Regions from separate parts of the Homo sapiens genome. Here region 2 is linked to region 1. Evidence: fine-mapped expression QTL. A gene starts in region 1. The other region holds a variant in brackets. All regions are shown on one strand. Distances are between the middles of the regions. Region 1 holds the start of KCNC3 (potassium voltage-gated channel subfamily C member 3). Region 2 holds the start of NAPSA (napsin A aspartic peptidase).

Evidence for each region. PIP is the estimated chance that this variant, and not a neighbour inherited with it, causes the effect.
Region 2: its variant is fine-mapped to the expression of KCNC3 in whole blood (TOPMed, PIP above 0.99).

What each region holds. Positions count from the first base shown.
Region 1 is chr19:50,324,856-50,336,217 of GRCh38, forward strand. It overlaps KCNC3 (potassium voltage-gated channel subfamily C member 3), which reads right to left and starts at 4,522. Exons shown (of 5, transcript NM_004977.3): 1 at 3,358-4,522. The coding sequence starts at 4,227. LOC105372437 (a long non-coding RNA gene) reads left to right here and starts at 4,765. Exons shown (of 4, transcript XR_007067299.1): 1 at 4,765-4,940. It also overlaps the pseudogene NAPSB. RefSeq lists silencers at 3,385-3,474, 4,083-4,632, 4,713-4,772, 5,650-5,829, 5,843-6,212 and 2 more and enhancers at 1,139-1,660, 4,237-4,531, 6,793-6,842, 7,153-7,252, 8,763-9,715.
Region 2 is chr19:50,356,736-50,368,097 of GRCh38, forward strand. It overlaps NAPSA (napsin A aspartic peptidase), which reads right to left and starts at 8,904. Exons shown (of 9, transcript NM_004851.3): 1 at 8,804-8,904; 2 at 5,437-5,578; 3 at 5,234-5,357; 4 at 4,928-5,046; 5 at 4,206-4,405; 6 at 3,005-3,127; 7 at 2,768-2,912; 8 at 2,276-2,374; 9 at 1,742-2,045. The coding sequence starts at 8,886. The coding sequence ends at 1,818. The region is part of intron 3 of LOC105372437 (a long non-coding RNA gene); the gene reads left to right. RefSeq lists an enhancer at 9,105-9,254. The variant A/G (reference allele first, on the strand shown) is at 6,522.

The DNA.
Region 1 (11,362 bases):
GGAGGTGGGGGTCCGGGCCCTTAAGGGAGGAGGGGTTGAAGGGTTAAGCCTGCAAAAATGGAAGAGGAGATAAAAGAGGAGAGTCAGGCAGGGTTTAGGGCCCTGAAGAGGAAGGAGAGTCACTGGCCTGGACATTGTGGGAAAAGGCAGAGCCAGGGCCAAAGAGAAGTTAGGGCATTTGCCAAAGGGGCAGAGAATGAGGGGTGAAGGGTCCTGAGCCATTTCAAGATGGGGGATAACCAGAGTCCTGCCACACAGTGATGTGGGTTTTGATGAAGGCCTAGAAGAGGAGGGAGTGGGGTCAGGGTCTTGGAGAAGGAAAGCAATGGGCCAGGCCCCTAGAGATGTCATGGGCTTTATCAGATATGCAGAGGGGTGGGAGGGGAGAGGAGTGCATTGGAGAGGGAAGGAAGACAGGTGTTATAGTAAAGAGAGGGTTTTAATCCTGCGGGTAGTGGAGGAGGGAGGGCATGGGGAGTTTTGCTATTAATCAGGGGCACAGAGCACGGGGAGGCCACTGCTGGACCACAGAGAGGACCTTGGACTTTGGGGTGGGCCAAGGGCCAGCACTGTCCCTCTGTGCACCCCCCTTCCTCCACAGGGGTTGGGCTCTGGGCTTGACTTCACTGAGGTGCAGAGCTGGGAAGTAGTGGGTGGAGAGTTTCGGGGCCACAGAGAGGACCCTGGACGTTGGGGTGGGCTGGGGGCCGGCGCAGGTCCTCTCTGAACTCCCCCCCCACCCCCACCTTCGCTTCTCTGCAGTGGTTTAAGAGGCCAGAGGCCTTCGCAGAGCGCATGCCTAGTTCCCCGCCCCCTCCGAGCCGGGCGCGCGGCGCTAGCTGCGGCACCGCAGTGGGGGCGGGCCAGCCGGGCCGGGGGGCGGGGCGCACGGCGGCCAGTACCGCGGACAGCTCCCCCGCCGCAGTGCGCAGCCGCAGCGGCTAGGGGCCGTCTTAACCCCTTCCGGGCCGGAGCCTATTCAACGCGCAGCCGCAGTGTTGCTGCTTTCCGGCGGGAGGCCAAGGGCCAAGAGTCTAATTAACTCCTTCCCTCCCAGGGCACAGGGAAAGGTGGGCACCCGCCGCAGTGCGCAGCTGCAGAGGCTGGACGGCGTCGGGCTGGTTTAACCCCTTACTCCAGAGTGTGTCAAAAGCAGAAGGGGTAGGAGGGCATGGAGTCTCTGTAAGAAGGAAAGGAGTGATTACGAGGAAGGGGGCGGGGGCAGGGGGCTGTAGGGTCGGACCCTCCACTTTGCTTTGGCCTCAGCTCCCAACTCTCTCAAGCCATATCACTGGGAGGCTGGAAAGGGCTCGGCACACCTTGGACACCCAAAACACATTGGCGGAGTAAATGAGTATCTCCCGTAGCTGTCCCGAACACCTAGCCTGACCATCACAGAAGAACTCTAACTTCATCCCGCTCCTCATCTCAGCACCCTTCAATGGGGTCACAGGAGAGAAGGGCGCCCCGGCCATGGGGGAAGGAGCCGCTCAGTGTCTTGAGGGGGCATCCAGGGCCATGTCCCTTCCGCACCTCCTCTTCCCCACCTCCCCCCATCCAACCCCAAATCTCGCCAACTCAGCGCTTTCTGGGGACCAAACTTTATGCGGTGGCTCCAGGCGTCCCCCCGCTCCCTCCCCCGGCGCGAATGCGGCACTGCGGCTCCGCGTCCTTCCCGGCTCAGGACGCGGCACGGTGGGGGGAGGGGGCCAAGACCTGCTCCTCTGTGTTTGGGTACCCAGGAGCCCAGGAGGGGGTCTTGGGATCGCTCTTATTTCCCCCATTTCCAATTGCCCCCATTTTGCACTGCCCCCCTTTTCCACCACATTCTCCCTCCGGGGTCCCCGGGACAGGGAGGAAGTTAGTAGGAGGAAATGGTTCAGGAGAGAACCCAGGGGGAGGGTAGTCATTTAGCCTAGGAAGTTATGGATGCTTGAGGAAAGTTTTCTGGGAGCGATGGAGAGAGCTTTGGGGAAAATCTAGAATTTGGAGAGAGAGAGAAGGCTCTTTGGTTCACTTTGATGGAGGGGGACAGACTGAGGGGCTAGGTTCTGGGTTTTGCACGGCGGGGGGGGAGGTTCGAGAAAGGAAGAGGGCAGGTGGAAGGAATCCCAGGGCAAGGTAGAAAGAATTGTAAGTTATTTTGAGATGAAAGTTTTAGGGCTGATGACTTGAGGGGCCTCCCAGGGTTTGAGGTTAGAAAAAGTTCTAGAGCAGGAGGGAAAGTCACTTAGACTAGGAAACGGGCTGTGGGGGCTTTGGATGGGGGGAGTCCCAGGGATAGAGAGTGCACTGTGCAGTTAAAATGATGGAGAGGAGAAGCTGCGAGGATCTATGGAGGAGGAAGAACAATTCTGGAGGACATGTGAGGGTTCTGGAGAGGAAAGGCATATGATGGGGGCATGGGATGCTTCTGGAGGCACTGAGGAGGAGTGTGAAAGGCTTGGGGGAAGTCTGGAGCTTTATGGGGAAAGTCCTTGAGATGGGAGTTGGCGTGGAGGTTGAAGAGTGTTAAACACAGAGTGAACACAGAGGGGGCCTGGAGGTTCCAACGGAGAAGATGCCCCAAGACTCAGTATTGCAGTGAGGGGGAGGTGAAAATGTCCAGGCAAGAACAAGTGGAGGTTTAGAGGGGTCCAGAAGGCTGTGAGGTTGGGGTGGGGGAGTTTTCTGAGACTCTGAGAGCAGAAGATACTGCAGGAAGGGAGTGGAAAAAATAATCAGAAGATTCAAACTTGGAGAGAGAGGTCTTCTGGGAGACGGGCCACGGGGTGAATCGGGGAGGTGCTGGGAGAGACTGAGAGTTGAATAGGGGGCCCCAGAGAGTCTGGAGAAGGCAGGGAAAGTGGGGGTCAGGGCTCACAGGGCCTAGGAGAATTTGAGGGCTGAGAAGGGATGTCTTCTGAGGGGCTGGGGAAGGTCCAAGAAACCAAGGGCTGGACGGTGACCAAGAGTAGTGAGAAGAGATTTGATGGGGCCCAGGAGACATGAGGGTTGGGGAGGGTCTCAGAGGAGCCCAGGAAAGGTGGGGACCGGGTTGTTCAGAGAAGCACGGGAGATTCACGGTCTGGAGGAAGTGTCTAAGCGTCTAGGGTGGCCTTGGCGGGGGAGGGGGAACTTTGGAGGGGTCTGGAAGAGCCCGAAGGTTGGAGATCCGTCTTTGGAGGATCTGGGGGATGGCTGCGAGAGGGGGGTGTGTTCGGAGGAGCCCAGGAGACTCAGGATTGGGGAAGAGGCTTCTAGGAGACTGAGAAGCCTAGAGGGACCCGGAGGGTTGGAGCTGGGGCGCTCCTGGGAGACTGGGGGCGCCTGGAGAGGCGGGGGTGGGGTGGATGGGGGCCCCGAGAGCGCGCTCACCCTGGCAGCCCGCGACGAGTAGGGGTCCTCGAAGAGCGCCCACACGCGGGGCTGCCAGCGGCGCCACCATGTGCCGCCCGCGCCGCCCGCGCCCCCTGGCGGCCCCCCGGCGCCGCCGCCCGCGTCCTGGAAGCAGAGGCGCTTGAGCTCGCCGCCCGCTCCGTCCAGGCCGCCGCCGCCCGCGCCCGCCTCGTCGTCCAGGCCTCCGTCGTGGGCGCCTGCGGCGTTGGCGGCGTTGGCGGCGCCCGCGGGGTCGGGCGCCTCGAAGGAGTCGAGCGCCTCCTCAGCGTCGCGATGCTGCCGGTAGGTCATCCAGCAGCAGGCCTCCACGTCGGTCTCGTCGATGCCCCAGAAGCCGAGCTCCTCCTCAAACAGGGGCCCGCACACGTCGGCTGGGCAGTGCAGCTTGCCGGTGCGGTAGTAGTTGAGCACGTACGCGAAGACTCCCGGGTGCCGGTCAAAGAAGAACTCGTCGGCGCCCGGGTCGTAGTCGAAGCGTGCCGCCGCCTCGGGCTCCGTCAGGCCGGCCAGCCGCGTCCCCGGCAGGGTGCGCAGCGTCGAGCGGTACGTCTCATGGCGCACGCCGCCCACGTTGATCACGATCTTGCCGCTGTCGCCACCGCCGCCGCCGTGCCGCCCCATGGCCGCCGCCGGCAGCCCGGGGCATGGCTCGGCGCGCCGGTCCCCGGGCCCGCGGGGTGCCGGGGGGCCCGCCGGGGACGCGGCGGGGCCGGGCTGCGCAGGCTGCTGCTGCTGCGGCGGCAGCGGTGGCGGCGGCGGGGACTCGGGCGGCTGCGGCGGTGGCGCCGGCTGCTGCTTGCTGGCCCCCTGGCGCCCGCGGAAGGACGAGACGCAGACTGAGCTCAGCATTGGACGGGGGGCGGGGCGGGAGGGGCGGGGACGCAGGGGCGGGGACACGGGGGGAGAGACCGACGGGATTGGGTGGGAGGAGGAGCGAGGTAGCGGGGGCGTGGCTTAGGGGAGAGGAACCAAACTGATTGGCCTGGGGGAGGTGGGGCGGGGCTGTGGCTGGGAGGAGTGGGGCGGGCACTCTAACGCGACCCAGCTGGACGAGTCGGGGCCGCCAATGAGACGGAGCGATTGGCTCTTTCTAAGAGAGCAGGGAGGAGGGGCGGGGCGGGGCGTCAAGGGAGGCGGGACCGGTTACTACTAATTGTGTTCGGCAGCACTGGTAGCCAGGGGAAGGCGGGGCTAGATACGATAGAGAGAGACCTTACTGAACTGAAAAAAGTGCGGGCGGGGTAGAGGGAGGAGGGGACACATCCAAGCTATTTAAAGACGCCCGACTGGCCTGGAGGGGCGGGGCCACCATGAGAGAGGCCGTCCTGATTGGGCTGAGAAAGGGGCGGAGAGAAACAAAACAGATCGCACGCCCTCACCTAAAACACCGCTAGGCAGGACCTGGTGGGGAGGAGCATTGCTTGGAAGAGACAGGGCCGCAGAAAGTAGAAACGGTCCAGATGAGACTGCATGGGGCGGGAACTAGAGATGGAGGACTTTCCCGCGCAAGGGGGACAGGCTGGACTGAAAGAGGACACGGGAAGAACAAAGACTTAGACTCGGTGAGAAGGTGTTGAAACTTGAGAGAGTCCTGGAAACCCGAGAGGGTCTGGATAGGCCTAAGGGAGGGAGCGGGGCTGAGGCTCCAAGGCGGGCCTGGTTAGTCGGGGCTGGGCCCGGAGAATGAGTGTCCGGATGGATGAGTGGTACTGAGGAAGGTGAGTGGGGTCGACAAATAGAAAACGTCTTGAGGCAGGGCGCAGTGGCTCACGCCTGTAACGCCAGCACTTTGCGAGGCTGAGGTGGGTGGATCATTTGAGGTCAGGAGTTCGAGACCAGCCCGGCCAAAATGGTGAAGCCCCGCCTCTACTAAAAATACAAAAATTAGTCGGGCGTGGTTGTGGGTGCCTGTAGTCCCAGCTAGTCGGGAGGTTGAGGCAGGAGAATCGCTTGAACCTGGGAAGTAGAGGTTGCAATGAGTCGAGATCGCACCACTCCACTCCAGCCTGGGCGACAGAGCGAGACTCTGTGTCAAAAAATAAATAAATAAAAGAAAAAGAAAACGTCTTGAATGGGCGGTAGGAAAGAGAGACTAAGGAAGGAGCGGGGCTTGAGGGTCTTGAAAGCAACCAGGGTAGGCGAGGGCAGGGCAGGGCTAAGGGAGGGTAGAGGAACGGGAGAGGTGGATCCCAGGGGAACAATGAGACTACAAAGAGTACAAAGCTACTGGGCTGGATGGAGGGGAGGGACCTGGAACGGGGAGTCTTCGGGATCAGAAGACCTGGGAGAGGGCACTGCCTAAAGGTCACAGGGTCTCAAAGGGCGAGGCGAGAACTTCTAACGAACGCTACACCGCGGCGGACTGCAGATTGGAGGACCGAGGGTAGATGAGGACTGGTGAGGAGGGGGCACGCAAGGAGGCAGAGAGGACGGGAGAGGGGAGAGGCCAAAGCGCCAGGAAGCACCGTCAAGACTGAGGCAATATAGGCAGGACCGATAAAAAATGGGGTGGGCTAGGAGTCTCAGAGGTCGGGTTCTGGGGAAGAATGGAGTGAGGGGCGGGGCCAGAAAAAGGGGACCGCCTCGGAGCGGGCCGTCCCCGCCCCCTGGGCGGTCGTAGGCTCCGAGAGGCAGAGCGCAGGCTCAGGGGGCTGGGGCGGGGCCAGCGGCTGCGGCTGGGGCTGCGGAGGGAGGAGGCGGCGCCTGCGGGAGCGAAGGGGGCGGGTCAGGGGGCTGCGGGCGCCCTCGGGCAGCACAGTTTCTGGCCCGCCGCTTCCTGCTGCAGGTGCGGCGGCTGATTCGTATCGCCTCCCAACCCCATCCCACCCCCGCTCCCGTTTCTGGGTTTCTTGGCGTCTCTTTTTCTCCCTTCTTGAGTATTTGTGCCGCCGTCTCTGTTCCCACCCCTCTGAGTCTCCGACCCCTCGTTTGTAAATCTGCCCTCCTGGGTCTCTGATTCTGTCCCCCTCCTTCTGAGTCTTTGCTCCTCTTCTCTCTAGGCCTCAGTCTCTCCTCCCTGGTGTCTCAGTCCCCGCCCCCCCACCCCAGCTCCCCCGAGTCTCTTTCTCTTGGTTTCTGTACCATTTTATCAGGGGTGTGCCTCTCTGTCTGGGGCTCTGTACCGCACTCCCTGGGTCTTGTGTCCCTGTCCTCTACTCCCTCCCCGCAACCCGCTTTGTCCTGCCTCCTCTCTGGGTCTCTGCCCTTTCATCTGAGTCTGTCTCCTCCTTGCTCTCTGACAACCTCTTTCCCCTCCCCCTTCTTCTTCCCCTTCTCCCCATCTCTGGTGTATTTCCCCCTCCTTCTTCCCCTTCTCCCCATCTCTGGTGTATTTCCCCCTCCTTCTTCCCCTTCTCCCCATCTCTGGTGTATTTCCCCCTCCTTCTTCCCCTTCTCCCCATCTCTGGTGTATTTCCCCCTCTTCCGTCTCTTTCCCTCCTCTGTCTCTGCTCTTTCTCTTGCTGGCTCTCTGTTCTTCTCTCTCTCCCTCTAAGTTTCTGCCTCTTCACTTTCTCTATGTCCCCTCCCTGAGTCTCTATTCCTCCTATGTTTCACCTTCTTCTGGGTCTCTCTCTTTCTAGGTCTCTGTCTCCACTTCCTGGGGACCCTGTCCCCCTCTCTCTGGGTCTCCGTTCCTTTTTCTCAGACCCCCCATCACCCTCTCTAACCCCCGTCCTAGCTGGGACTGCGTCACTGCAGAGAGAGTTGCAGAAGTGGGGCCTGTCCTGCAGCCCAGGAAGGTCGTTGCCCTCACTCCCCAGACCCAGGGCTCTCCATTGCACCCAATCCATCATGTCCTTCAGCTTCTGATGGAATCCAAGAGGGCACAGAAAAGACATAGGTACTTCCTACCCCTTCCCCGAATTCTGGTGCACCCCCAGGCAGAAGCAGAGAATCCTGAGGTGAGGGACTGGGCTGGGGCTGGATGAGGCTCCTGGGCAATTGGGGGTGGGGTGGTGGAGGCAGGAGCAAGGGCTGGGTAGGCACTATGGGCTAGGTAAGGACCTCGGTCGCCATCCTCCTCCACACTCCCCCCTCAACCCTGCTTTTCCCTTCTGCTTTTCACAGCAGCCAGGCACGGTATCAAGTGGCTAAATCAGCGTTTTTTTGCAGAGGTCAGAAGTGTGGGAGAAGGTGGGGGCTGTGGGGAAAAGGGGCTGGAATAAGGAGGAATGTGCGATGCGACTCAGGATTAGAGGCCATGGGAGGGGAAGAGGCAGCGGGCCGGGAGTAGCAGGCTGGTCCGTCCACATTCCATCAGGCCCTGGGAAACTTGGATGCCAGCACTCCCTCATGGCCCTCCACAGACCCCACCAGGGTCTATGGGAGGATTTGTGAGCCTGGAGTCTCCACCCACCCATTAGAGAGGAGGGGGCTTCTGGAAGCTTCATGAGGGCTCCAAATACTGGACACTCAGCTATGTTCACAGACCAGGAGGAAGTAGACTCGACTCTTGACTAGGGACACCAGGAGGGGAGAGGCCAACGTCTGTCTCGTTTTCAGTTCCTTTCCCCACCCCTGCTCCTCCCAATCCATCCGTTCCCAGGCCCTCAAGACACAAAATTCCTGAAAGCTCCAACTCCCATCTACGTCATCTTCGGCGTCCCCTGATAACCCTCCCTCCCCCATTACCCCAGGCCCTGGAATTGGGGAAGGGTCTTCCCTCCCTGACTTCTACGACCCCTTCCTTGTTCCTCTGCCCCCATTCCCACCCGGTTCCATTCGGAGCCTTGGTCTCTGGACACCAAAGGTGAAAATGTGAGGACTCTCTGCCTACGATCCTTCGTCCCCTAAAACCCTCCAAGTACCTTGGCCCCGAAAGCTCAGAGTCGAGGGGAATCTCCCCGCTATAATCTTTGGGTCCCTGGATCCCAAGTCCCCCGTCTCCAAAACTAGGATTCGGGCTGTCTTACCGCCCCCGGACCCTGAGCCTTCGCCCCCTCCCCCGTACTCACCCCAAGTCGAGGCGAGGTGGGGATGGGGGAATCCGGGGCTCGAGATGGGGGGAGGGGTGACCCAGCCCCGGCAGCTCTGGGCAGCAAGAGGCTGCAGAGGGGGGAGTGACATCACCGCCGGAGGAGGGGCAGCACCGCTCCCCCAACCCAGGGGCTTCAAGCTCCGCCTTTATGGCGGACCCCGGGGTCCTGGAATGCCAAGGCAGAGAGGAGAAACAGGAGACGAGGTCCGAGGGAACGGTATCCCCGCCCCTTAGAACAGGAACTGGTAAACCCTTACCAATTACAGCCACCCCCGACTGCCACCTGTGGCTGCCGTCGCGACCTGTCGCCTCCCACGCATGTTGTGGCTGCGCCCGCCCCCGTCAGGGCGTGACCACGGCGTGGACTACAACGACCGTGATGCTCCACGGAGCCAGGAGCCTTTGACGAAAGGCAGCGTAGGCGAGGGCCTTCATGGGACTCGTAGTACAAGGCCCATCACAAGGGTGCGCCGTGGAGAAAAGGGGTGATACCCTTCGCCTCCCTCTCTTCCTCAACTCCGTGGGTCCATGCACAAAGCTTTCTCTTCAAAAAGTACGCTCTGAAAAGAAGCAACCTAGGCAGGTTCGTTCAATGGAAATATTGGATTTTTACTGAGTAGCGCTAGCTCTGCTACCCGGTGCGCATGCGCATCACCTGGGCGGCACCCGCGGTACTGCGCCTGCGCGGTCTCGCGCCTTCCCAGGTCCGCTCCGCGAGGGCGAGCGCGCGCCAGTCCCACTCGTGCGCCGCTCTTCATGTCCCCGCGGTCGAAGACGGTCACATACGCCCCCAAGAAAACGTCGCCGAGGATCCACACAGGTACTGGAGGCGAAGCGATGTCCAAGGCCCGGAAGCCGGACAAGCAGAGGCGGACGTCACCCTGAGCAAACTGCAAGGCGACAAGGCGGCAACTGGGTGTCCAGGCCGCAGGAACCACCATTTCCCTGGGAGTCCGTGCTCTCTCCGCCCCCAACCCCGGGGACAAGAAATGTTTCTGTGGCCCCTTCCGGCCCTAGTGATGTCCAACTACCAGCTCCACCCTCTCAACTCCAGTCATATTACATCACTGTGGCGTCATTATGACGGACACCTACCTGGATGACGTAATCCTGGGCCGTGAGATTAAACCAGACCCCCCCAATGAGGAGTGAGACTGCGGGGAGCTTTGGGATTTCTGAGCACCGGATGATGTACTGGTGGAGGAGAGGAACAAGTGAAGATGGGAGATTCCTGCTCTGCTCAAATCCCGTCCGTGGCTCCCCAGTGCCATGGAGTAATGTTCATATTGAGCACCTGGGTATTCAGCACCGTGTGTGGACAGCCCTGTTGCCTAGGCTCCTCTCATCTAGTCCCAAACAAAACTGCATTATCATCTCCCCCAACAACCCCCCCCCCACTCCCACCCCTACTTCACCATCCACTGAGCCACTTAGCATAGACACTTGGGAAGTATCTTTGCTTCCTCCCACCACTCTCTGGCATGTCACTTAAGAAGCCCAGTCCCCTCTGTCCTGGATACGCTCTAGCTACCTGCTTCCCATCCTCAGGCCGCAGTGTTCGCCATGGAATTGCCATCATCTTCCCCAGGACACACCCACCAGAGACTGGGACCTCACCTCCCCAGCCAGCAAGGGGATTCCCCCAATGGCTGCATGCAGGGCCCGGATCTCCTCAGTGGGTCCTACGATGACAGGTGTGCCTGTATCCAGGATGGCAGCACAGCCCTGGGCACAGAGAGTCAGCCGTGAGCCCACCTTCACACTGAGGGGGAAGGAAGCAGTCATTAGAGGCAGGGTCCTAGGAGTCCAGGCCTCCAGCTCCAGACCCAGGAGACCAAGTCCCTCACCGCTCCATGTGGATCTGCCAGTAGGCGGGGACTGTGACTGGCACGAAGGTGAGGGGTGGGATGTAGTGTGCCGGGTCTGAGCCCCCCAGGACCAGCTCTCCTCCATCAGCCACTTCAGGGTCCCTGCAGGGGCAGAGTGTAGAGGTCATTGTCGCCAGCCCTCCCCCGCCAGCCCTAGGAATGGCCAGGGATGGGACTTCCTGCCAATTGGGTCATTTTTGGGGTTCTAGTTGGGGCAGTGGAATGCAGGCAGGGCCGAGATGTTGGGACTGGAAACAAGAAATGAAGGGAAATGGTGCTTTTCTTGATGGAAGTTAGGACTTTAGGATGATGGATACTTCCTGAAGTGGAGAGGAGACTTCTTCATTTGGCTGTGGAAGGTAGAGCTTTTGGGGGAAATTCCTGAGCTGAATATCATAGTAACCAAGCAGACCAGTGGAGTCTCAGAATTGGCTCGAAGGTGTGACTTGTACAGGAGTGGGGTGGCTTCCTGGGAAGGTGCATAGACTTTCTGAATTGCCTGTTGTGGTATCTAGAAAGGTGTTAGACTTCCTGAGCTGGCTGAGAGTGATGGGAACGGGGATGGAAACTTCCTGGAAGATGTAAATGAGTGGGACCTACCGAGAGCTAGGTGGAACTTCTTGAGTGGGTTGGATGTCAGGGTAACTGAGTGGGCATTGGACTGTGTGTGATGGGCCCTGGGAGGGAAAGTGAAGACTTCTCGGGTGGTGGGTGGGACTTCTGAGCATAAGATTGACCTTCCTACCAGGTGGGTGGGGCTTCGTGAATTCAATCAGGCATTTCCTGACTTCTGGTCAGTGTTCTCAAATGGGATTTGAGCTTTATGGTGAAGAGAAGGTTCCTGAGTATTTGGTTGGGTGGGGCATAGAATTTCCTAGTTTGATTTTGAAACTCAGCATATTGAACTGTTGGTGAGTTTCTTTAATATGTCTTAAGTTGTCACTTAAGCTCTGGGGCTTATGAATAGGGTTGAGGTGTTTCTTCTGTTAGGTAGGTGGCTACTTCCTGAATGAAGGGTGGGATTGATTTTTTTTTTTTTTTTTTTTTTTTGGAGACGGTCTCTCTCTGTCACCCAGACTGGAGAGCAGTGGTGCGATCTCGGCTCACTGCAACCTCCACCTCCCGGATTCAAGCAATT
Region 2 (11,362 bases), 32 kb after region 1:
TGCACTCCAGCCTGGGCAACAAGAGCAAAACTCCCTCTCAAAAAAAAAAAATCTCCACAAAATATTTAAAAATTAGTCAAGCATGGTGGCCCACGCCTGTGGTCCCGGCTACACGTGAGGCTGAGGCAGGAGGATCGCTTTCTCCGGGGAGTTCGAGGCTACAGTGAGCCATTACCGCGCCACTGCACTCCAGCTTGGGCGACAGAGTGAGTCCCTGTCTCAATAATAATAACAATAATAAAATAATAATAATAATAATAGTAAAGATCCACTTTGTGCACTCCTTGCTCTGGGGAATTTTTCTGAAACAGTGGACAGTGTCTCTATGATAACTCTCACCACCACCACCACCACCCCCGCTTTGTTTTCTCAGTCAGAGCACTCGATCTGGGCCCTTTCAACTCGCCCCTCATGCTTTCCGTCTGCAGCACCCCATCCAACTTCACCCAAAGCGCCCTTAAGTAGTTTCTGAGAGGCCGTGCCTGCAAATTCCCAATTGGCCACAAGGTGGAGGTGTGGGCCTGTTTTCCCAGCCGCCACCCGTTTCTAGAGCTGGACCCCTGGAACACCAGGCTCTTTCTAGCTTCCCTGCTTCCGCCCTAGCGGTTCCCACCGGCCTGGAATGCCGACTTGCTCGCTCTCTGCATCCCACGGGAAAAGGAGCAGAACAGAGGCTTCCTCCCTGACTCTCCTGCCCGAGCTTACTGGGACCTGAATCTCCCCGTGTTTAGTAGTTTAGCGGTTTGTGATCAGGTCGGCCTCCACCATCAGAGCAGCACACTCTCGAGATGGGGCTCAGGCCTGACTCTTTTCGGGGTCCCCAGAATCGCTCAACACAATTCTTCCAGAAGCCTCGGGATGCGATTAAAGGATTGCCAGATTTTTCGACCGGTCGTTTTGTCGAATCATTTAGTTCTGGGTAGCAAGAGGCTGAGGAGGGGAGAGTGACGTCACCTCCGCGGGTGGGGCAGCACCGCTCCCCGAACCCGGGGGCCTCGAGCTCCCCAGGGGTCTAGGAATCCGGAGGGAGAGAGGAGAAACAGGAGATGAGATCCGGGGGAATGGTATCCTTGCCCCCTTGAACAGGAACTGGTAAACCCTTACCAATTACGGCCAACCCCCACTGCCACCTGTCGCTGCCGTCGCAACCTGTCGCCTCCCACCCATGTTGTGGCTGCGCCCGCCCCCGTCAGGGCGTGACCACGGCGTGGATTACAACGACCGTGATGCTCCACGGCGCCGGGAGCTTTTGACGGAAGGTAGCGTAGGCGAGGGGCTTCATGGGACTCGTATTACAAAACCCCTCACCAGGGTGCGTCCTGGAGAAAAGGGGTGATACCCTTCGCCTCCCTCTTCCTCAACTCCATGGGTACAGGCACAAAGTTTTCTATTATTATTTTTGAGATGGAGTTTCGTTGTTGCCCAGGCTGGAGTGCAATGGTGCGGTCTTGGCTCACTGCAACCTCGGCCTCCCAAGTTCAAGCCATTCGCCTGCCTCAGCCTCCCGAGTAGCTGGGATTACAGGCATGCGCCACCACTCCCGGATAATTTTTTTTGTATTTTTAGTAGAGACGGGGTTTCACCATGTTGGCCAGGTTGGTCTCGAACTCCTGACCTCAGGTGATCCACCCGCCTCGACCTCCCAAAGTTCTGGGATTACGGGCGTGAGACACCGCGCCCGGTCACAAAGCTTTCTCGTTAAAAAGTACGCTCTGAAAAGAAGCAACCCAGGCAGGTTCGCTCAATGGAAATAGTGGATTTTTACTGGGTAGCAGGACCTCCGCGACCACCCGCTGCGCATGCGCTTCACTTGGGCGTCACCCGGGGAACTGCGCCTGCGCAGTCTCTCCCCATCCGAGGTCCGCTCCGCGAGTGCGAGCGCGCGCCAGGCCCACCCGGGCGCTGCTCTTCATGTCCCCGCGGTCGAAGACGGCCACATACGTCCCCAAGAAGACGTCACCGAGGATCCAGAAGGGCCCTGCAGGCGGAGGGACATCCAGGGCCTGGAAACCGGACAAGCAGAGGCGGACGCCATTTCGAGTAGTCTGCAAGGCAACAAGACGACAACTGGGTGTCGCGGCCACAAGGACGGCCATTTGCCTGGGAGCCCGTCCATCCCCCCCACCCTCGGGTTCTTTGATGTTCGCCAACAAACTGCCATCACAGGGAAAAGAAATGTTTCTGTGGCCCCTTCCCTTCCTAGTGACGTCTCTCAGCTCTACCCTCTCAAACCGTCATATGACGTCACTATGGCGTCATGGTGATGGCCACCTACCTGGATGACGTAATCATGGGCCGTGAGGTTAAACCAGACCCCCCCAAGAAGGAAGGAGACTGCGGGGAGCTTTGGGATTTCCGAGCACAGGATGATGTACTGGGGGAGAAGAGGAACTAGTGAAGATGAGAGATTCCTGCTCTGTTCAGTCCCTTCCGTGGCTCCCCAGTGCCATAGGGTAATTTCCCTATTGAGCACCTGGGTACTCAGCGTCCTGTGTGCAGAGGCCCTGCCGCCTAGACTTACGCAGTCCCAAGCAAACCTGCATGATCGTCTCCCTCCACCCGGCCACCATCCGCAGAGTCGCAGTGTAGACACGTGGAAAGTGTCCTCAATTCCTCCACCACCCTCCAGACTATCTGTCACGAAGTCCAGTGCCTGCTGCCCTGGAAAGCCCCTTAAATACTTGCCTCCCACCCTCAGGCCCTTTGATGTTCACTGTCAAACTGCCATCAGCCTTCCCAGCCCGTACCCACCAGACTGGGACCTCACCTCCCCAGCCAGCAAGGGGATTCCCCCAATGGCTGCATGCAGGGCCCGGATCTCCTCAGTGGGTCCTGTGATGAGGGACGTGCCCGTATCCAGGATGGCAGCACAGCCCTTGGCACAGAGAGTCAGCCCTGGGCCCACCTTCACACTGAGGGGGAAGGAGGCAGTCATCAGAGGCAGGGTCCTAGGAGTCCAGGCCCCCAGCCTCCAGCTCCAGAGCCAGGAGACCAAGTCCCTCACCGCTCCATGTGGATCTGCCAGTAGGCAGGGACCGTGACTGGCACGAAGGTGAGGGGTGGGATGTAGTGTGCCGGGTCCGAGCCCCCCAGGACCAGCTCTCCTCCATCAGGCTCTTCAGGGTCCCTGCAGGGGCAGAGTGTAGAGAGTGTAGATGTCAGTGTCACTGGCCCTCCCTCAGCCCTAGGTATTGCCAGGAATGGCACTTCCCACCAACTGGGTTGTTTCTGGAGTTCCTACGGGGTAATGGGATGCAGGAAGGGCCTAGATGTTGGGACTGGAAGCCGGGCAAGAAAAGCATGATGCTTTTCTTGGTGGAAGCTAGAACTTCCTGAAGTGAAGACGAGACTTCATTTGGCTGTGGAAGGTAGAGTTTTGGGGAATTTCCTGAGCTGAATATCATAGTAACCAAGTAGAGCAGTGGTGTCTTGGAATTGGCTCTTGAAGGTGTGACTTGTGCAGGGGTGGGGTGGCTTCCTGAGTAGGAGAAGAGAATTTCTGAATTGCCTGTTGTGATATCTAGAGAGGTGTTAGACTTCCTGAGTTGGCTGAGAGCGATGGGAACAGGGATGGAGACTTCCTGGAAGGTGGAGGAGAGCAGGATCTGCTAGGTGGTTGGTAGAACTGCTAGAGTGGGTTGGATGTCAGGGTAACTGAGTGGGCATAGGATTTTCTGACTGTGTGTGACAGGCCTCTGGGAGGGAAAGTGGAGACTTCTTGGAAACTTCTTGGATGTTGGGTGGGACTTCTGAGCATAATACTGAACTTCCTAGCAGGTGAGTGGGACTTCCTGGATTAAATCGGGCAATTCCTGACTTCTGGTCAGTGTTCTCAAATGGGATTTGAGCATTCTTTGTGAGGAAGAGAAAGCTCCTGAGTATTTTGTTGGGTGGGGCATGGAATTTCCTAGTTTGATTTTGAAACATGGAGCATTCTGAACTGATGGTGGGTTTCCTTAGTATGTCTTAAGTTGTCATTTAAGCTCTGGGACTTCGAATAGGGTTGAGGTGTTTCTTTATAGGGCAGGTGACTTCCTGCATGGAGGATGCAACTTCTTGTATTGAATGGCTGACTTCCTGAATGGACAGTGTAAGTGGGTGACTCTGAGAATGAGAATTCCTGCATTGGGTCAGTGACTTCCTGAAGGAAGACTCTCTTCCTTCTTGGGGATAGGACTCATAGATAGGTGCACACTTCCCAGTACCTGTTGAGGTAAAAGGAGAAGACAGGCTTATCCAATAGCCCCTGCTCCACCAGTACATCCATCGGGGGCCGAACTCCTTCCACAGACAGAATGGGAAAACCGAGGCCCAATATCCCATCAAAATGGGCAAAAGCGAAGACCAGGCTGGGCTCCCAGAGAGCCTCCCCGAAAATCACTGATGCACCCTTGATTCCACCAATCTAGGGGTAGATTGAGATGTGACCAGTTACTTTTGGGAGGACAATAACCACATGTCCTGAGGTCTCCCAAACCAAGGCATGAATCCTAGGTCTGGGGACTTCTGGATGCAAGCCCCAACTTCCTAGGAAACTATGCCTCTTGAGAAGCCCCACCCCTTCACCCAGGAACCCCTTTCTTCTCCTTGAGAAGCCCCACCTCTTCACCCAGGAAGCTCCTCCCCTGCTTGAGAAGCCCCACCTCTTCACCCAGGAAGCTCCTCCTCCCTGCTTGAGAAGCCCCACCTCTTAACCTTGGAAGCTCCTCCCCCCTGCTTGAGAAGCCCCACCTCTTCACCCAGGAAGCCCCTCCCCCTCCTTGTGACGCACCATCCCTTCACTCTGAAAGGCAGGCCCTCCTCCCCACTTGAAAAGCCCCATCCATTGGCTTGGGAAGCTCCTCCTCGAGCCTCTTCCTAAGCCAGATGATCTTAGACAATGGGGTTCTCCCAGGCTCAAGACTTCTGAGAGTCAAAGGCCACTCACAGTCAGCTTGTCCTCGCTCAGGATTCCATCTACCCGCCCAGTTCCATATTGAATGGCAAACTTGGTCCCATTGGCCTGGAAGGAGCTAGAGGCTTTGGGATCAAATCGGTGGTGTAACCCTAGGTTAGAGGTCAGAAAGGTGTCATGGGGGAGGGAATCTCCCCAGTGCCTACTGCCCCTTTGACTTTCTGACCTGTGAGGGCATGATAAAAGAACAGTTCCTCAAAAGCCTCTGAGAAGCTGAGGTCCAGCCCCGCCTCCTCCCTTCACCCCCATTCAGCCTTATTCTCCCACATAGAAGCTCACAGCAGGGCACACTGAAGAAGTGGCATCTCCTGGACGGGACCCAGAGATTGGAGGAGCCAGTGTCAAAGGCAACAGTGAAGTTTTGTGGAGGCGTTCCCAGCCCAATTTCCCCAAAATACTGCACCTGATAGCAAAAGAGGAGAGTAAACGAAGAGTTTGGCTCAAGGGCGCAGGGGTGAGGGCTGTGTGGGGCTGTGACTCACATCCCTGTAGTTCGAGAGAGGTACGAAGATGGGCTTGTCCCCAGGGGATGGGGCCCCCAACTTGGGGAGCTCTGCTGGTTCTCTCCATCCCCTCAGTAGGTTCAGGATCCTGCGTCCAGGTTGGACTCGATGAAGAGGGATGCTGTAGGGAAAGAGGATATTGACAGGAAGCTGCCCTTCTTGGAGAACCTCTAAATAGACTTACCCAAATAGGATATGATGACAAATTCAACATCTCCAAGGCACTACAATAGTAGTCAGTACCAGAAACCCTGCAATAACAACCTCCAGAAAAGCCCATCAAAGATGCCATGATGACAAATATCCCCAAAGACTTTACAAGAGCAAACCATCCCAAACAGACCTTTCCATGTCCAAATCCCTTAAAATAAGCTATTCCCAAGGAATTGACATTCTTAAAGATTTCCCAAGACCCTAACAGAAAACCTAACCTTTGCAAAAGCCCTTGGGTGGTGGCCCCTGCATGCTTCAGTTCGTGAGGTTAGGGACTATTTTCCCCACCCTTGAGGAGAAAAATGTAAGCGTCAAATCTTAATTGTCTTGCTGTGTTGCCCGTGCTGATCTCAAACTCCTGGCCTCAGCCTCCTAAAGTGCTGGGATTACAGAGGAGAGCCACTATGCCCTGTCCGGGTTCCTTTAAACTGTATTTGCAAAAGCAGGAGGCAAACAGGATTTGGCCCTTAAGCTGAGTGTTTGCAACCCTTGACTTAGAGGGCCAATTACAATTCAGGTATCTTAGTTGCTAATTAAGTAGGTCTAGGATGGAGCCGAGAATTTGGATTTCTAACAAGTTCCCAGGTCATGACGATGCTGTTGATACAACATTTGGAGACTCATTTTCTTTGCATTGACTTAGAAAATGGCCATGAGACATTAGGTTCAAAAAGCAGGTTAACAAGCACCATGTGCGGTAATATCTTCGTTCCTGCCTTTAGTCACTCCTTGAAGCACTTGTCACATCACTCACACCTTTCCCGTCACCCCCCATGAGTCAGTCTTTGAGAGGCACGAGAATGTGAAGTGGGGAAAACTCTTCCTGGAAGTGTACACCCCTCCCCCTACCA[A/G]GAGTTCCAGGGAATGAAGACAAGAGAGGAGAAAAAGAGAGATGGGGGCGGGGAGGGGACATCAGAGGTAAGGTAGTGGGAAGACTTCTTGCATAGGGTCCCCAAGATTGGATTTCTTTTTCTTCTTTTAAACTTTTTATTTGAAACAGGGTCTCCCTCTGTCACCCAGGCTGGAGTGCAGTAGTGCAGTCAGGGCTCACTGCAGCCTTGATCTCCAGGGCTCAAGTGATTCTCCCACCTCAGCCTCTGGAGTAGCTGAGACTATGGGCACACCACCACACCTGGCTTTTTATTTTATTTTATTTTATTTATTAATTTTTTTTTTAGACAAGGTGTCACCCTGTTGCCCAGCCTGGAGTGCAGTAGCAGGATCATAGCCCACTGCCCCCTCGAACTACTGGGCTCAAGCAATCCTCCTTCCTCACCCTCCTGAACTAGCTGGGACCATGGGTGTGCACCACCACACTGAGCTAATTTTTGTATTTTTTGTAGAGGTGGAGTCTGGCCATGTTGCCCAGGCTGGTCTCAAAACTCTTGGCCTCAAACAAGCTTCCCACCTTGGACTTCCAAAGTGCTGGGTTACAGGTGTGAGCCATGTCTCTGGCCAAAAACATGACTTCTTCAGGCCAGTTTGATGGGCGTGATGTGGGGGAGTCTCAGTTTAAATGTCACATATCTGGGGCTCGAAGATGGGAGGAGTGTGTCACAGGTCTGGAAACCACAGTACCTAATCATCAGAGCTCATAGTAGGGTCTGCAGAGACCTCTCAAAAACATGTCCTGGCCAGGCGCAGTGGCTCACGCCTGTAATCCCAGCACTTTGGGAGGCTGAGGCAGGCAGATCACGAAGTCAGGAGTTCAAGACCAGCTTGGCCAACATGGTGAAACCTCATCTCTACTAAAGATACAAAAAAAATTAGCCGGGCATGGTGACTCACGCCTGTAATCCCAGCACTTTCAGAGGCAGGAGAATGGTGTCAGCCTGGGAGGTGGAGGTTGCAGTGAGCTGAGATCGCGCCATTGCACTCCAGCCTGGGCGACAGGGCAAGACTCCGTCTCAAAAAAAAAAAAAAAAAAAGGCCAGGCGCGGTGGCTTACGCCTGTAATCCCAGCACTTTGCGAGGCTGAGGTGGGTGGATCACGAGGTCAGGAGATCGAGACCATCCTGGCTAACACTGTGAAACCCCATCTCTACTAAAAATACAAAAAATTAGCCGGGCGTGGTGGCGGGTGCCTGTAGTCCCAGCTGCTTGGGAGGCTGAGGCAGGAGAATGATGTGAACCCGGGGGACAGAGCTTGCAGTGAGCCAAGATTGCGCCACTGCACTCCAGCCTGGGCAACAGAGTGAGACTCAGTCTCAAAAAAAAAAAAAAAAAAAAAGTCCTGAGAGGAGGGGGAGGGGTCCTCAATCTAGAGTCTCAGTGTTGTAAGATCTGGGACTTAAAAGGGCTCTGGGACCGGACGCGGGGGCTCACAGCTGTAACCACAGCACTTTTGGAGGCTGAGGCGGAAAGATCACTTGAGGTCAGGAGTTCAAGACAGCCTGGCAAACATGGCGAAACCCCATCTCTACTAAAAATACAAAAATTAGCCGGGCGTGGTGGCATGTGCCTGTAGTCCCAGCTACTTGGGAGGCTGAGGCAGGAGAATCACTTGAACCCGGGAGGCAGAGGTTGCAGTGAGCTGAGATCGCCCCACTGCACTCCAGCCTGGGTAACAGAGCAAGACTCTGTCTCAAATAATAATAATAATAATAAATAATAATAATAATAATAATAATAATAAAAGGGCTCTGGTCAGCCAGGCGCGGTGGCTCACGCCTGTAATCCCAGCACTTTGGGAGGCCGAGGTGAGCGGATCACGAGGTCAGGGGTTCCAGACCAGCCTGGCCAACATGGTGAAACCCCGTCTCTACTAAAAATACAAAAATTAGCTGAGCATGGTGGCGCGAGCCTGTAATCCCAGCTACTTGGGAAGCTGAGGCAGGAGAATCGCTTGAACCCAGGAGGCAGAGGTTTCAGTGAGCTGAGATCATGCCATTGCACTCCAGCCTGGGCAACAGAGTGAGACTCCATCTCAAAAAAAAGAAATCTGGTCTTAAGAGATGTCAGAGTGGAGCCCTTAGGGGTGACAGCCTGGTTTAGAGATCTGGAAAGCTGAGAAAGAAGCTCTAGGGATCCTGGGTGCCAAGTTTGGGGATCACTGAACTGGGAGTCCTAGACTTAAAGGGCAAGAGGCAGAAAATCCCTCCTAAGGTTGGGGTGGTAGATGGGGTCACCATACCGGATCAGTGTGGCCCCGGAAGGCTCCACATTCAGCAGAGGCAGCAGCAGCAGCAGGGGTTGCAGCAGCGGTGGTGGAGACATCGCTGGGGACCTGGGTGTGAACCCAGGTGTCCTGGGGCCTCATTTTCTTTCCCCTGTGACTCCACCCTGTTCATGCCCCACCTCCAGGTTTAGAAGGAGACCAGGACATGAAATCTGTCCGCAGGTGACGCAGTGGGACAAGGATGTTTTTTGAAGATTTGTGCAGAGTATTTTTGTAGGGTTGGCAGAAGTAGCATCCTGTGCTCCTGGTGCTCCTCACTCCCTACTTGGGTGGCAGTGGTGGTGGGGTCTCCTCCACCGTCACCACCTCCCACCCCCCCATCCTTCAGCTGCTGTCAGTTTTACTTTTAACTTTCACATAACTTTTCTGAGACTTATTAACCACAAGTGTTTCCTTGGCCAAGTGGGAGAGACCAGCAGGTATCTGTGAAGGGCCTGGGGGAAGGGAGAAAGGACATGATTAGACACCTGCCCTCACATATGAAGTGGGCCCGCATTTCAGGACCCAGTCTCTTACTGTTTTATTTGTAGGTGAAGTATGTTTCTTGTTGACAACAGATCATTGGGTATTGTTTTTTGTTTGTTTGTTTTTGTTTTTGTTTTTTGGTTTTTTTTTTTTTGAGACCGAGTTTCACTCTTGTTGCCCAGGCTGGGATTACAGGCATGCGCAACCACGCCCCACTAATTTTGTAGTTTTAGTAGAGACAGGGTTTCTCCATGTTGGTCAGGCTGGTCTAGAACTCCCGACCTCAGGTGATCCGCCCGCCTCAGCCTCCTAAAGTGCTGGGATTACAGGCGTGAGCCACTGCACCCAGCTGATTCTCAATTATTTCAATCTCTTTGTTAAATTTATGTGATGGAATCTGAATTCCTTCTGTGTGTTAGCTTGAATTTCTTTGAGTTTCCTCAAAACAGCTATTTTAAATTCTCTGTCGGAAAGGTCACATATCTCTGTTTCTTCAAGGATTGGTCCTTGGTGGCTTATTTGATTTGTTTGGTAAGGTCATTTATTCTGGATGGCCTTGATGCTTATAGATGTTCATTGGTGGCTGGGCATTGATGAGTTATTTATTTATTTATTTATTTATTTATTTATTTATTTATTTAGATGGAGTTTTGCTCTTGTTGCCCAAGCTGCAGTGCAATGGTGTGATCTCAGCTCACTGCAACCTCTGCCTCCCAGGTGCAAGTAATTCTGCCTCAGCCTCCCGAGTAGCTGGGACTACAGGCACCCGATACCACCCTGGCTAAATTTTTTTTTTTTTTTTGAGATGGAGTTTCACTCTTATTGCCTAGGCTGGAGTGTAATGGCGCCATCTTGGCTCACTGCAACCTCTGCCTCCTGAGTTCAAGCGATTGTCCTGTCTCAGCCTCCCAAGTAGCTGGGATTATAGGCGCATGCCAGCTAGTTTTTGTATTTTTAGTAAAGACAGGGTTTCATCATATTGGTCAGGCTGGTCTCGAACTCCTGACCTCAGGTGATCCACCTGCCTCGGCCTCCCAAAGTGCTGGGATTACAGGCATGAGCCACCGCACCCAGCCTACACCCAGCTAATTTTTGTATTTTTAGAAGAGACAGGGTTTCACCATGTTGTCTAGCCTGGTCTCAAACTCCTGACCTCAGGTGATCTTCCTGCTTCAGCCTCCCAAAATGCTGGGATTAGACATGAGCCACCATGCCTGGCCATGTTAGGTATTTATTGTAGTCTTTGCAGACAAGGCTTGTTTGTACCTGTCCTTTTTGGGGAGGCTTTCCAGGTATTCAAAAGTACTTGGGTGTTGTGATCTAAGCCATGTCTGCATTAGGGGGCTCCCCAAGCCCATTAATGCTGTGGTTCTTGCAAACTCATAGAGGTACTATCTTAGTGGTCTTAGATAAGATCCAGAAGATTTATCTGGATTACCAGGCAGAGACTCTTGCTCTCTTCCCTTGCTTTCTCTCAAACAGAGTCAGTCTCTCTCTCTCCCTCTCTCTCTCTCTCTCTCTCTCTCTCTCTCTGTCTCTGTCTCTCTCTCTCTGCTGAGCTACCTGGAGCTGGGAGTGGGGTGACACAAACACCCCATGCCTACTATCACTGGGATTGCGCTGGGTCCTGCCCATGGCCTCCTGTAACCACGACCTACCTGCCTACTGCTTATGTTTGCTCAAGGCCCTTGGGCTCTAAAACTAGCAGGTTCCAAAGGCAGCCATGCTTGCATCCTTCCCTTCAGGGCATCAAGTTACCTCAGGTCCCAGGTGGGTCCAGAGATACAGTCAGTGAGCCAGGGACTGGAGTCAAAACCCTTAGAAATCGGCTGGATGCGGTAACTCATGCCTGTAATCCCAGCACTTTAGGAGGCTGAGGCAGGCGGATCACTTGAGGTCAGGAGTTCGAGGCCAGTCTGGCCAACATGGTGAAACCCTGTCTCTACTAAAAATACAAAAATTAGCCAGGCGTGGTGGTCAGCGCCTGTAATCCCAGCTACTCGGAAGGCCGAGGCAGGAGAATCACTTGAACCTGGGAGGCGGAAGTTG